Homo sapiens: one gene and its partners. The protein of the gene in region 2 purifies or fractionates together with the protein of the main gene of each other region. This does not show direct contact. Each region holds a gene or a part of one and is shown on either strand. Other genes may lie near its edges. The genes, in order: POLR3H, POLR3C and POLR2E.

What was found.
Region 1: the proteins of POLR3C (region 2) and POLR3H purify together in Homo sapiens (affinity purification with mass spectrometry; 5 studies listed by BioGRID and IntAct, with this or other methods). This does not show direct contact.
Region 3: the proteins of POLR3C (region 2) and POLR2E purify together in Homo sapiens (affinity purification with mass spectrometry; 5 studies listed by BioGRID and IntAct, with this or other methods). This does not show direct contact.

What each region holds. Positions count from the first base shown.
Region 1 is NC_000022.11:41,537,739-41,541,484, forward strand, and holds part of POLR3H (DNA-directed RNA polymerase III subunit RPC8), read right to left. Parts: intron 3,058-3,746; coding exon 2,961-3,057; intron 1-2,960.
Region 2 is NC_000001.11:145,834,054-145,837,799, forward strand, and holds part of POLR3C (DNA-directed RNA polymerase III subunit RPC3), read left to right. Parts: intron 1-2,440; coding exon 2,441-2,521; intron 2,522-2,761; coding exon 2,762-2,813; intron 2,814-2,964; coding exon of another isoform or gene 2,965-2,967; exon of another isoform or gene 2,968-3,438; intron 3,439-3,482; coding exon 3,483-3,543; intron 3,544-3,746. UniProt on the Homo sapiens protein: DNA-dependent RNA polymerase catalyzes the transcription of DNA into RNA using the four ribonucleoside triphosphates as substrates.
Region 3 is NC_000019.10:1,088,630-1,092,375, reverse strand, and holds part of POLR2E (DNA-directed RNA polymerases I, II, and III subunit RPABC1), read left to right. Parts: intron 1-468; coding exon 469-584; intron 585-1,387; coding exon 1,388-1,468; intron 1,469-2,230; coding exon 2,231-2,289; intron 2,290-2,410; coding exon of another isoform or gene 2,411-2,413; coding exon 2,414-2,492; intron 2,493-2,824; coding exon 2,825-2,890; 3' UTR 2,891-2,904; intron 2,905-3,655; 3' UTR 3,656-3,746. UniProt on the Homo sapiens protein: DNA-dependent RNA polymerase catalyzes the transcription of DNA into RNA using the four ribonucleoside triphosphates as substrates.

The DNA of each region.
Region 1 (3,746 bases), on a different chromosome or scaffold from region 2:
AGGACAGATGAGGGTGGGGGCTAATAAAAGCCAGCAGTAGAAATCTTCCAATTGAATAGACAGAATTTCCTCCAACTTTTTTTTTTTGAGACGGGGTCTCTCTCTGTCACCCAGCTGGAGTGCAGCGGCGTGTTCTTGGCCTCCTGGGTTCAAGCGATTCTCCTGCCTCCACCTCCACCTCCCAGGGAGCTGAGATTACAGGTGTGTACACCACCAGACCTGGCTAATTTTTTTTTTTTTTTTTTGAGATACAGTCTCACCCTGTCGCCTAGGGTGGAGTGCAGTGGCACAATCTCAGCTCACTGCAACCTCTGCCTCCTGGGTTCAAGCGATTCTCCTGCCTCAGCCTCCGGAGTAGCTGGGATTACAGACATGTGCCACCACACCCAAATAATTTTTTTTTTTTTTTTTTTGAGACGGAGTTTCACTCTGTTGCCCAGGCTGGAGTGCAGTGGTGCGATCTCGGTTCACTGCAAGCTCCGCCTCCTGGGTTCACTCCATTCTCCTGCCTCAGCCTCCTGAGTAGCTGGGACTACAGGTGCCTGCCGCCACACCTGGCTAATGTTTTGTATTTTTAGTAGAGACAGGGTTTCACCGTGTTAGCCAGGAGATCTCCTGACCTCATGATCTGCCCGCCTCGGCCTCCCAAAGTGCTGGGATTACAGAAGTGAGCCATCGTGCCTGGCTTTTTTTGTAGTTTTAGTAGAGATGAGGTTTTGCCATGTTGGCCAGGCTGGTCTAGAACTCCTGACCTCAGGTGATGCACCCGCCTTTACCTCCCAAAGTTCTGGGATTACAAGCGTGAGCCACCACACCCGGCCGCAACTTGACTTTTTTCTCCAAGTTTTTCTGGAAGTTCTAGTACCTATTACCACTTGTCTCCTGGACAACCAAGGCCCCTGTCCAAATGCGGAGACTGGGCTCAGCTCGGCATCCTTCTCTGTAAACAGAGGCCCTCGTGGTTGTTTTCACACTGCAATCTTATTTCTCTGCTAATGAAAATGCTCCTAGTCTGTACAAAGACAGCCTGTTTCTTCGGCCTCTCGGCGTACCATGGTAACATCCATGCGAACTAATTAATTCCCTGAATGGCTGGACACAGACACTAGGCAGTCTCACAGCATACTCTGGAATGTTCTGGCATCTCTGTGCTGAGAGGCTGACCAGTATGGACTACAGCAGGGCTTATCCAACATGAGCTCGTGTGACAACCACCTGGTACCTTGTTAAAACAGTCTTTGGGGCTGGGGGCAGTGGCTCACGCCTGTAATCCCAGCACTTTGGGAGGCCGAGGTGGGCGGATCACGAGGTCAGGCGTTCGAGACCATTCTGACCAACATGGTGAAACCCCCTCTACTAAAAATACAAAAATTAGCCAGGCGTGGTGGCACGTGCCTATAATCCCAGCTACTCGGGAGGCTGAGGCAGGAGAATTGCTTGATGCTGGGAGGTGGAGGTTGCAGTGAGCCAAGATCACACTTCTGCACTCCAACCTGGGCAACAGAGCAAGACTCTGTCTTAAAAAAAAAAAAAAGTATTTGGACCCATCCCCCAAGATTCTGACTCAGGCGGAGGGAGGCCTGGGGCAGGCTGAGAATTGCGCTCTGAGTGCCCAAGGGATGGCAGGCTTGGCGCCTGCGCTCTGGGAGCCTGAACCGTCTCAATGGGCCTCTCACCATCTCCTATACACTGGTTTGGTCCAGACATGAGAATGAAGAATGCCCCTCTCCTGGGGCTCATCACCTCCCTTGACTGGTGGTCCTGGCTCCTCTCAGGGTGGTCCTCTCTCTACTCCTCCCTCCTTCCAGGATCTGGTGATCACCTTCCATTCCTGGATGCACACCCTTTTGCAATGTGACTGCAGTTTCTCCCACCCAGAGGTGAAGTCTATTTCTCCATCCCCTCACCCTAGCCAACGGGATGGAAGCAGAGGCTTGAGAAGTACTTACGCACTGAACTTTGGAACCTTAAAACCGCCAAGCCCAGCCTGGCCTACTGAAAGATGAGACCATGTGGGGCAGAGATGGGCCAGCCCAGCCCAGGCCCCCAGTAACCAACCAGTCTGCCAACCTTCAGAATGTGAGACCGTCCTAGATTGTCCAGCCCCAGGCCAGCCAGATGAGAGGAAAACCACCCAACTGACCGACAGAATAGGGAGAAACAATCCACGCTGATAAGTCACTGAGTGCTCGTTAGGTGCCAAGGCTCTGTCCTAAGAGCTTTCATGTATTAACTCCTTAATCCTCACAATGGTCTTAGAATATAAAATCTATCCTAAACTGCAGTTGACATCCTGAACTGCAACTGACAGATAAGGAAGCAGAGGCACAGAGCAATGACATATTCAGCCAGGACACACAGCTAGTAAGAAGCAGAGCTCAGCTTTTAATCTTGAGGCCACACTCTTACCTACTGTGTCCTACTATCCAAGTCCCCCACCCCCAGCCAGCCTGCTGATCCCCCTTCCGTCTGCTCTCCACAGGCAGCGGGAAGCCCGAGGAATGGACAAGGTGCAGGGCTCAGTAGCAATGAGACCAAAAGGGCACAGACACAGAGCTATGAAGTCAGAGCTGAAGAGGCCTTGAAAACCAACTAGTCCACATCCCAGGCCTCACAGATGAGGGAACAGAGGCCCAGAGAAGAGAAGTCTGCCGCTGTCACCGGGTCAATTCCTGGCCGATTCAGGATGAGGCCCCACGTCTCCCAGCCTCCAGGACTCCCACCACCCTCTGGCCATCTCTTTGACTTTAGCCTTTTAAAATTTTTTCATATTTTATTTATGTATTTAAAGACAGGGTCTTGCTATGTTGCCCAGGCTGGCCTTGAACTCTGTGGCTCAAGAGATCCTTCCGCCCTCAGCCTTACAGGCACGCACCACTGAACCTGGATTTGGCTTGACCTTTGGCTACAGAAAACTGAGCCCCAAGAAGCCCAATGCCCCAGGGACAGAAGATACCCACCTTTGGTGTGTGATGCGCCATCCCCAGGGAATACATAGGCATCCTCCAGTTTGGTGATATCAAACAGACAAATGCAGAGTCCCACGTTGTACACGACCTGCATGCATACAAACACAGACACACAAGTACACATGGATACAGAGTGACCACAGGCCCAGCTCCCAGGCAATCTGAGCCCCTCACAACCACAAGCAAGCCATGATTATCTCCTTTTTTAGGTGAAAATGAGTTTGTGGAGGGGACCAGGGTAAGGAACCTCAGAAGGATGCAGAGCTCTGGAAGGAGCAGGGCCTCGGGTGACAAAACAGGTCCAGGTTCCAAGGCCAGCTCCACCACCCACTGTGTGACTGCCAAGAGGGTCACTTCACCTCTCTGAGCCTCGGTCTCCCCATCTGCAAATGTGAAATACCAGGCTGCAGAGTTATAAAATAAAGAGAGATAACAGATGTGAAGCCCCTAGCCTTGTACCTGGCTCGTGTATTGGAAACCATCATCATCAAGGATCTTTGTTATTACTAGTGAGGACCAGTGACAGGAATGCTGCCTAAACGTGCACTCTCCGACATCCCAAAGCCAATGCCAGAGCTCACAGTTTAGTGAGCGTCACAGCCACAGCTAAACCCCACTGTGCTCACAACATCTCAGACACACAGACGCAGCCACAGGGACTGCAGCTGGCAGAGGGACACAAGACCTAGGCCCCAAGAATGTGCAGAAATCCCATGCCCTCACCCCACACCACTGTGGTTCAAACGACTGGCTACTCAGTGTCTCCTTATCTGCCAC
Region 2 (3,746 bases):
CCTAGATGGTGTAGCCCTACAGCACACCTAGACTGAACGGGATAGCCTATGGCTTCTAGGCTGTAAACCTGTACAGCATGTTACTGTACTGAATACTGTAGGCAGTTGTAACGCAGTAGCATCTGTGTATCTAAACATCTAATCACAGAAAAGGTACAGTAAAAATATGGTATGAAAAATTAAAAACCACACCTGTTTAGTGCACTTAACATGAATGGAGCTTTCAGGACTAAAAGTTGCCCTGTGGGAGTTAGTGAATGAATGGCAGATTAATGTGAATGTGATGGTCTACACGCTCAGGCTACACTGTATTTATTAAAAACCAGTAACAGGCTGAGCGGGGTGGCTCACGCCTGTAATCCTAGCACTTTGGGAGGCCCAGGCTGGTGGGTTGCCTGAGCTCAGGCGTTTGAGACCAGCCTGGGCAACATGGTGAAACCCATCTACTAAAATACAAAAAAAAAAAAAAAAATTAGCCGGGCATGGTGGCATGCGCCTGTGGTCCCAGCTACTCGGGAGGCTGAGGCAGGAGAATTGCTTGAACCCAGGAGGCAGAGGTTGCAGTGAGCCAAGATCATACCACTGCACTCCAGCCTCACCACACATGTGAGTAATGTGTTTCACAACGGCATTGTGCTATGATGTTACAACAGCTATGACATCACAAAGCAGTAGGAATTTTTCAGCTCCAGTATAATATGGGACCACAGCTGCACACGGTCCGTTGTTGACTAAAATGTTATATGGTGCATGACTGTGTTTAAATATTCCTATATTTTTATATTGTTTATTTTAAAGTTCTATGGCCAGGTGCAGTGACTCACACTTGTAATCCTAGAACTTTGGGAGGTTGAGGCAGAAGGATCCCTTGAGGCCAGGAGTTGAAGACCAACCTGGGCAACATGACAAGACCCCCGTCTCTACAAAAAATTTTTTTAAAAAATTAGTTGGGTGTGGTGCCATATGCCTGTAGTCACAGCTATTCGAGAGGCTGAGGCAGGAGGATTGCTTGAGCCCAAGAGTTGAGGTTGCAGTCAACTATGATCATGCCACTGCACTCCAGCTTAAACAACAGAGCAAAACCCTATTTCAAAAAAAAAAAAAAAAAAAAAAGGCCGGACGCAGCAGCTCACACCCGTAATCCCAGTACTTTGGGTGGCCGAGGCAGGCAGATCACCTGAGGAGTTCAAGACCAGCATAGTCCAACATGGTGAAACCTCATCTCTACTAAAATTACAGAAATTAGCCAGGCATGGTGATGGGCGCCTGTAATCCCAGCTACTTGGGAGGCTGAGGCAGGAGAATCGCTTGAACCCGGGAATGGGAGGTTGCAGTGAGCTGAGATCGCACCACTGCACTCTAGCCTGGGAAACAGAGTGAGACTCTGTCTCAAAAAAAAAAAAAAAGTTTGGTATATATCTTTATTCAGACCTTGCATACTCTAACATATATGTGGGTATATGTATTTTTTAACCCCAAAATGGGACTATTCATATGGCTTTTTGGTTGGGTTTTGTTTGTTTGTTTTTGTTTTTTTGTGACAGAGTCTTGTACTCTTTCACCCAGGCTGGAGTGCAGTAGCGCAATCTCAGCTCACTGCAACCTCCGCCTCCTGGGTTCAAGGCATTCTCCTGCTCATCCTTCCGAGTAGCTGAGATCACAGGCACATGCCACCACGCCAGGCTAATTTTTGTATTTTTAGTAGAGACAGGGTTTCACTGTGTTGGCCAGGCTGGTCTCGAACTCCTGACATCAAGTGATCCTCCCACCTCAGCCTCTCAAAGTGCTGGCATTACAAAGTCGTGATCCACCACACCCAACCTAGTCATACTGTTCTATAACTTGATTTTTTATATGACAGTGTATGTAAAACTTCCTTTCATGTTAGTTTCTGTAGATTTGTCTCACTCTTCATAATGACTGTATCATATTCCACTTAATGGCCGTGCTATATTTTATTTTAGTGTACTCGGTACTGGTCATTTGGGTGTTTCTAGTTTTTTACTCTTACAAACAATCCTGCTGTGAATATTTTTGGACAGTTTTGTGGTAACTAAAATTAAAACTTTTTTTTTTTTTTTTTTGAGACGGAGTTTCGCCCTTGTAGCCCAGGCTGGAGTCCATTGGCGCAATCTCGGCTCACTGCAACCTCTGCCTCCCAGGTTCAAGCAGTTCTCCTGCCTCAGCCTCCCAAATAGCTGGGATTACAGGCATGCGCCACCACGTCCAGCTAATTCTGTATTTTTACTAGAGACGGGGTTTCACCATATTGGTCAGGCTGGTCTCCAACTCTTGACCCAAAGTGATCCACCTGCCTCAGCCTCCCAAAGTGTTCGGATTACAGGCCTTAGCCACTGTGCCCGGCCTAAAACATCTTTATTTCAGTAAGGTCAGGAGTTCTAAGTTCCCAAACCCATTTTAAGTGTCCTTTGCTCCATAGATCTTCAGATCCCTACCTGTTGGCTATAACATCTCTAAGCAAGTTCTTGATCAGTATCTCACTCTGCTGGCAGATGATCCAGTAAGTCTGTTTTTGCTTTTTTTCTTTTTTCTTTAGCCTGTACTGTTGATAATTTATTTCTGCACTGATACCTAGTGTCATCCTCCTGCAGAGTTATTCTCTACCTAGCCAGCCCAGACAATTTCTCCACATCATTTGATAGGAGGGCTACCTGCTGCAGACTTTTGGTCAGATTTGTTCCATTGGAAACAGAATCACTGGACTTTCCGTTCAGTTAACACTCTCTCTTTTTCTTAATAGCTAGAGTTTGTTGGAAAGTCTGGCGACAGTGGTGGAGGAATGTATGTCATCAGTATCCTTACCAGTTATTTCCTTAGAGTCAGGCAGCCTGACCTATAAATCAGAATGGTGCCTTAGGAAAGAAAGATTTGGTAATGTTTATTATACTAAATAAATTAGAAAATTGAAGTAATTGTTAAATAAATTTTTCTATGAATTTTCAGTGAACTGCATTGATGATGAAGTAAAAAGAGGCCAGGCATGGTGGACTTTGGGAGGCTGAGGCAGGTGAATTGCATGAACCCAGGAGTTCAAGATCAGCTAAGCAACATGGCAAAACCCCATCTCTACCAAAAATACAAAAACTAGCCAGCTGTAACGATGCATGCTTGTAGTCCAGCTCCTCAGGAGGCTGAGGTGGGAGGATCGCTAGAGCCCAGGAGACAGACGTTGCAGTAAGCTGAGATCATGCCACTGTACTCCAACCTGGGTGACCCTGTCTCAAAAAAGAAAAGGAAAAAGGACTTTTAATCAACCAAATTTTAGTTAAGCAAAACCCTTACTTAAACACTTGTATTAAAGTTTTGGAATATTTATGTACCATGACTGAAACCATAAATTATAACATGAAAAACAAAATAGCATTTAAAATTTAATTATAAATTAGAAACTTAGGAATAAAACTCAGATCACAATAACTAGGCCAAAACATTACTGAGTGACCTTAATTCTCTACATAAAGACCTCCATAAGGCATTAGCATCCCTAGCCACAGCCACTCTGGAGTCCGTCGTACAGGAGAGGTAAGGGGGACACTGGTTGGGTTTGGGATCACATACTTCCTATCCCCAGTGAAGTAATTTGATCATTATGTAAGCCACCAATATAACCACACCTTGGCATACTTTTCCCCATTTTTTCACTGGACTCCTATGGATCTCATGTAATACTGCTCTTTACCTTAAAATAACCTACTGTTTAATTCCTACCGATGCAAATTAACCAG
Region 3 (3,746 bases), on a different chromosome or scaffold from region 2:
GTTTAGAACTGTTGACTTCAAGTGATCCACCTGCCTCAGCCTCCCAAAGTGCTAGGATTACAGGTGTGAGCCACCGCACCCGGCCTCAGGTGATGCTTCTTAAAGAGAGCGTCCTGGGGTGTGAGGTCTGCTTGTTGGAGAGGTTGGTGCTGAGTCACCCGCCTCCCCAGAACTGCCCAGGGTGGGAGCCTCTCAGAGTCGAAGGTCTCTGCTTCTCCCTGGTCTCTGGGTGACTGAGGGGTGTCAGCCCCCTGTCCCTGTCTCCGGGTGAATGAGAGGTTTCAGCCCTCTCTTCCCCTGTCCTGGGATCCTGCAACTCAGGCCTCGTTTTGCAAACGCGGAAGCCGAGGCCCGAGCAGGAGAGACACCTGTGTGGAATGGGGCTGGAACCTGGGTGCTCTGGGCTCTGGGTGGGCGAGGGCCACGAGGGCCCAGGCTCGTGCAGGCCAGCACACTCTCTGTCTGCAGAGGAGCCCAAGGTGGGCATCAAGACCATCAAGGTGTACTGCCAGCGCATGCAGGAGGAGAACATCACACGGGCTCTCATCGTGGTGCAGCAGGGCATGACACCCTCCGCCAAGCAGGTGGGCACCCCTGCCCCACCCCGCCAGCCTCTCCCCCTCCCCAGCCTCCTCCCGCAAGCAGTACCCACAGGCGGCCCACGTGCCTTGGGCTTTGGGCCAGGCCAGCCAGGGTGCCCTGGAGGATGTGGCCGGGATGTCCGGCAAGCCCCGACCGCCTCCCTCCCACCGCGTCCATGGGCCCCACCCCAGGCAGCCGCCGTCCTCCCCCAGCTCTCAGGAGGGGCGTCAGGGCGGAGGGCACTGTGCCTCTCGCCAGCTCCTGTGGGCTCCAGCCCTCGGCCTGGTGCAGATTCCAGGAGCCGGAGGTTCTTTATCCTGAGCTGATGTCCAGGGGGACTTGCAGAGGAGGCCCGGCACGGGGTCCTCCAGGGGCCTATCCGTGTTCCCCGTCTGTCTGTCGGACACTCTGGAGCCAGGCTGCTGTGCTGTGACGGGCAGTCAGCAGAGCAGTTTAGTCCCTGGCCCACCAGCTGTGGGGTTCACGCAGCCACACAGAGCAGCACCCCTGTATGGGGAAGAGGTCGCCCTGCCAGCTCTGAGGGCCGCCCCTGGAAGCGTGTGATGGATGGAAACACATCCGAGTTTCCACGGCCACTTCACTGCTGGATGAGGCTCTCGATGAGCAGAGAGGCTGGGGAGGGGCGGGCTGTTGAAGGCTCCTGGGCTGGCGGTGGGGTTTTCTGATTCACGACGTGGGTGTGTTGTTGGGGCACACGAGTAAGCCCCAGGTAGCTTGAGGCAGGAAATGGGGTTGGGGTTGTCTGGGCCCCTCCGGGCCGTGCCTTAGAGCCGCTCTCTTCCAGTCCCTGGTCGACATGGCCCCCAAGTACATCCTGGAGCAGTTTCTGCAGCAGGAGCTGCTCATCAACATCACGGAGCACGAGGTGGGCGCGCGCCGCGGAATCCCGCCTGCGTGGGGCCGGCAGAGATGCAGCGTTTGTGGGTGGCCAGGAAGATGTGGGATCTGGGGCCCAGGGCAGGTGTTCCTATTAGTGCATGGAGGACAGGGTTCTCAAAGGGTGGCCCTGGGCCTGCAGCAGCCGAACCCGGGAGCTTCCTAGAAATGCAGATCCCGGCCGGGCGCGGTGGCTCACACATGTAATCCCAGCACTTTGGGAGGCCGAGGCGGGCGGATCACGAGGTCAGGAGTTCCAGACCATCCTGGCTAACACGGTGAAACCCCGTCTCTACTAAAAATACAAAAAAATTAGCCAGGCGTGGTGGCGAGCGCCTGTAGTCCCAGCTACTCGGGGAGCCGAGATTGTGCCACTGCACTCCAGCCTGGGAGACAGAGCAAGACTCCATCTCAAAAAAAAAAAAAAAAAAAAAAATGCAGATCCCGGGCCCACCCCAGCCTGTAGAATCGGGACTGCTGGGAGTGTGGAGGGACCCTAGTGCTGGGACAGGAGGAGTCCCAGCAGGAGGTGGCTGTGCCCAGCCCGTCTGCCTCAGAAGCCCCAGGAGCTGTGACTCCGTCCCCCGCCTGTGGAGCCAGGGTGGGGTGGGTGGGCTCCCTGAGTGCCGGGGATCGGGGTGGGGTTCAGGGCTCTTGTCCGTCTGAAGGCGCAGGGGCTGTGGTGGCACCTGGGAGCCACGTGGGGTCTCACCAGCCCTTGGTGATGCCTGGTGGCTTCCTCTCTCGGCAGCTAGTCCCTGAGCACGTCGTCATGACCAAGGAGGAGGTGACAGAGCTGCTGGCCCGATAGTATCCTTTCCAGCCCCACCGGCCCCGCCCCTCCCTGTCCCTCGAGACTTCCGCGTTCCCCCCCCACACACACCCCTGCCCCCCCAACGGCCCTGTCTGGCATTTTCCTGACGGTGCTTCGCAGTAAGCTCCGAGAGAACCAGCTGCCCAGGATCCAGGCGGGGGACCCTGTGGCGCGCTACTTTGGGATAAAGCGTGGGCAGGTGAGCCCTGTGGGGAGAAGGGGCCCTGGGGCTGCTCTGAGCTGACCACTCGGAGAAGGGGGCTTCTGTCCCTCCCCGACAGCCCCTCCCCCTTGATCCAGGGCCTGGAGGGGACCTCGAGACCACACCCCCAATATCCCCCTCTTAAAGCCAGGGCCACTGGGCCCAGAGAAGAGCGTGACCCAGGTTCCCAGGGAGCGGGTCCCACAGCCCAGGGTCAGCCATCTCGGACCCCTGCCGGCCATCCCCAGCCCGTGTGCTGCCCGCCTGCTGTCTGGTGACTGCAGTGAGACCCCTCAAGCATTCGCAGCCCCTGCTCTCTGTCTCTGCAGGTGGTGAAGATCATCCGGCCCAGTGAGACGGCTGGCAGGTACATCACCTACCGGCTGGTGCAGTAGCTACCGCCTGACAGGTGAGACGGCCGAGGGACAGGCACTGAGGTGGGGTCAGAGGCAGGGGTGTCGTCCCCTCCGTCGGTGTGCAGGGCTGTTCTTGCTTTGTCCGGCAGCAAGACCCTCCTAGCACCAGCCCAGCTGGGCCACCAGGCGCTCCCAGGACACCCCCAGACCCCCAGACCCCACCCGACCGTAGGCTGCAGCTCTTGGGGCTGTGCGCCTGGACGGGAGAGTCCTGGTACGCGGGGCGTGCGTCTCTCCGCCGCTGACCCACCTTAGAAGCAGGAGACGTTCACCTGCAGGGCAGTTGTGCGGCGGGACTTTCCAGAAGAGGGTTTAGAAACCTGCCCAGAGACCCCAGAGCTGAGAGAGGAGGCACAGCTTCAGGCCAACCCTTCCCTGAGTGGGCACCTTGGGAGGGACTGGCCGGAGTCTCAGGAGCGGGACAGCCTCTGCCCATGGCGAGAGCCTCCCAGCTTCCCCTGGACTCTGGTCATGGCGAGCTGCTGTCCTGCAGGCCGCCCCACTTCACACTCAGCCCAGGGGTGGGGCTTGGCCTGGTCTGACGCTGGCACGGTTCCTTTGAGGTCAGAGCTACTGCCCACGCCTGTGTGACCGCTGGGCACAAGGGAGCCGTCCGGCCTCTGCACTGCGGCCTGGGCCGCCTCCTGCCAGGCCTCCCGCACCCCGTCACGTTCGGTGGGCGTTGTGCTGTCCTGGGCATACTGGATCTGCCCCTGTCGTGTGACCACTCTCCCCCTTTCCTAGCCCCTAGAGGCGGACACACAGCGACCCCCATCCCTGCAGGACAAACGCCCCTGCCCTGCCAGAATCCGGCCCCCACAGCTCTCACGGCTGC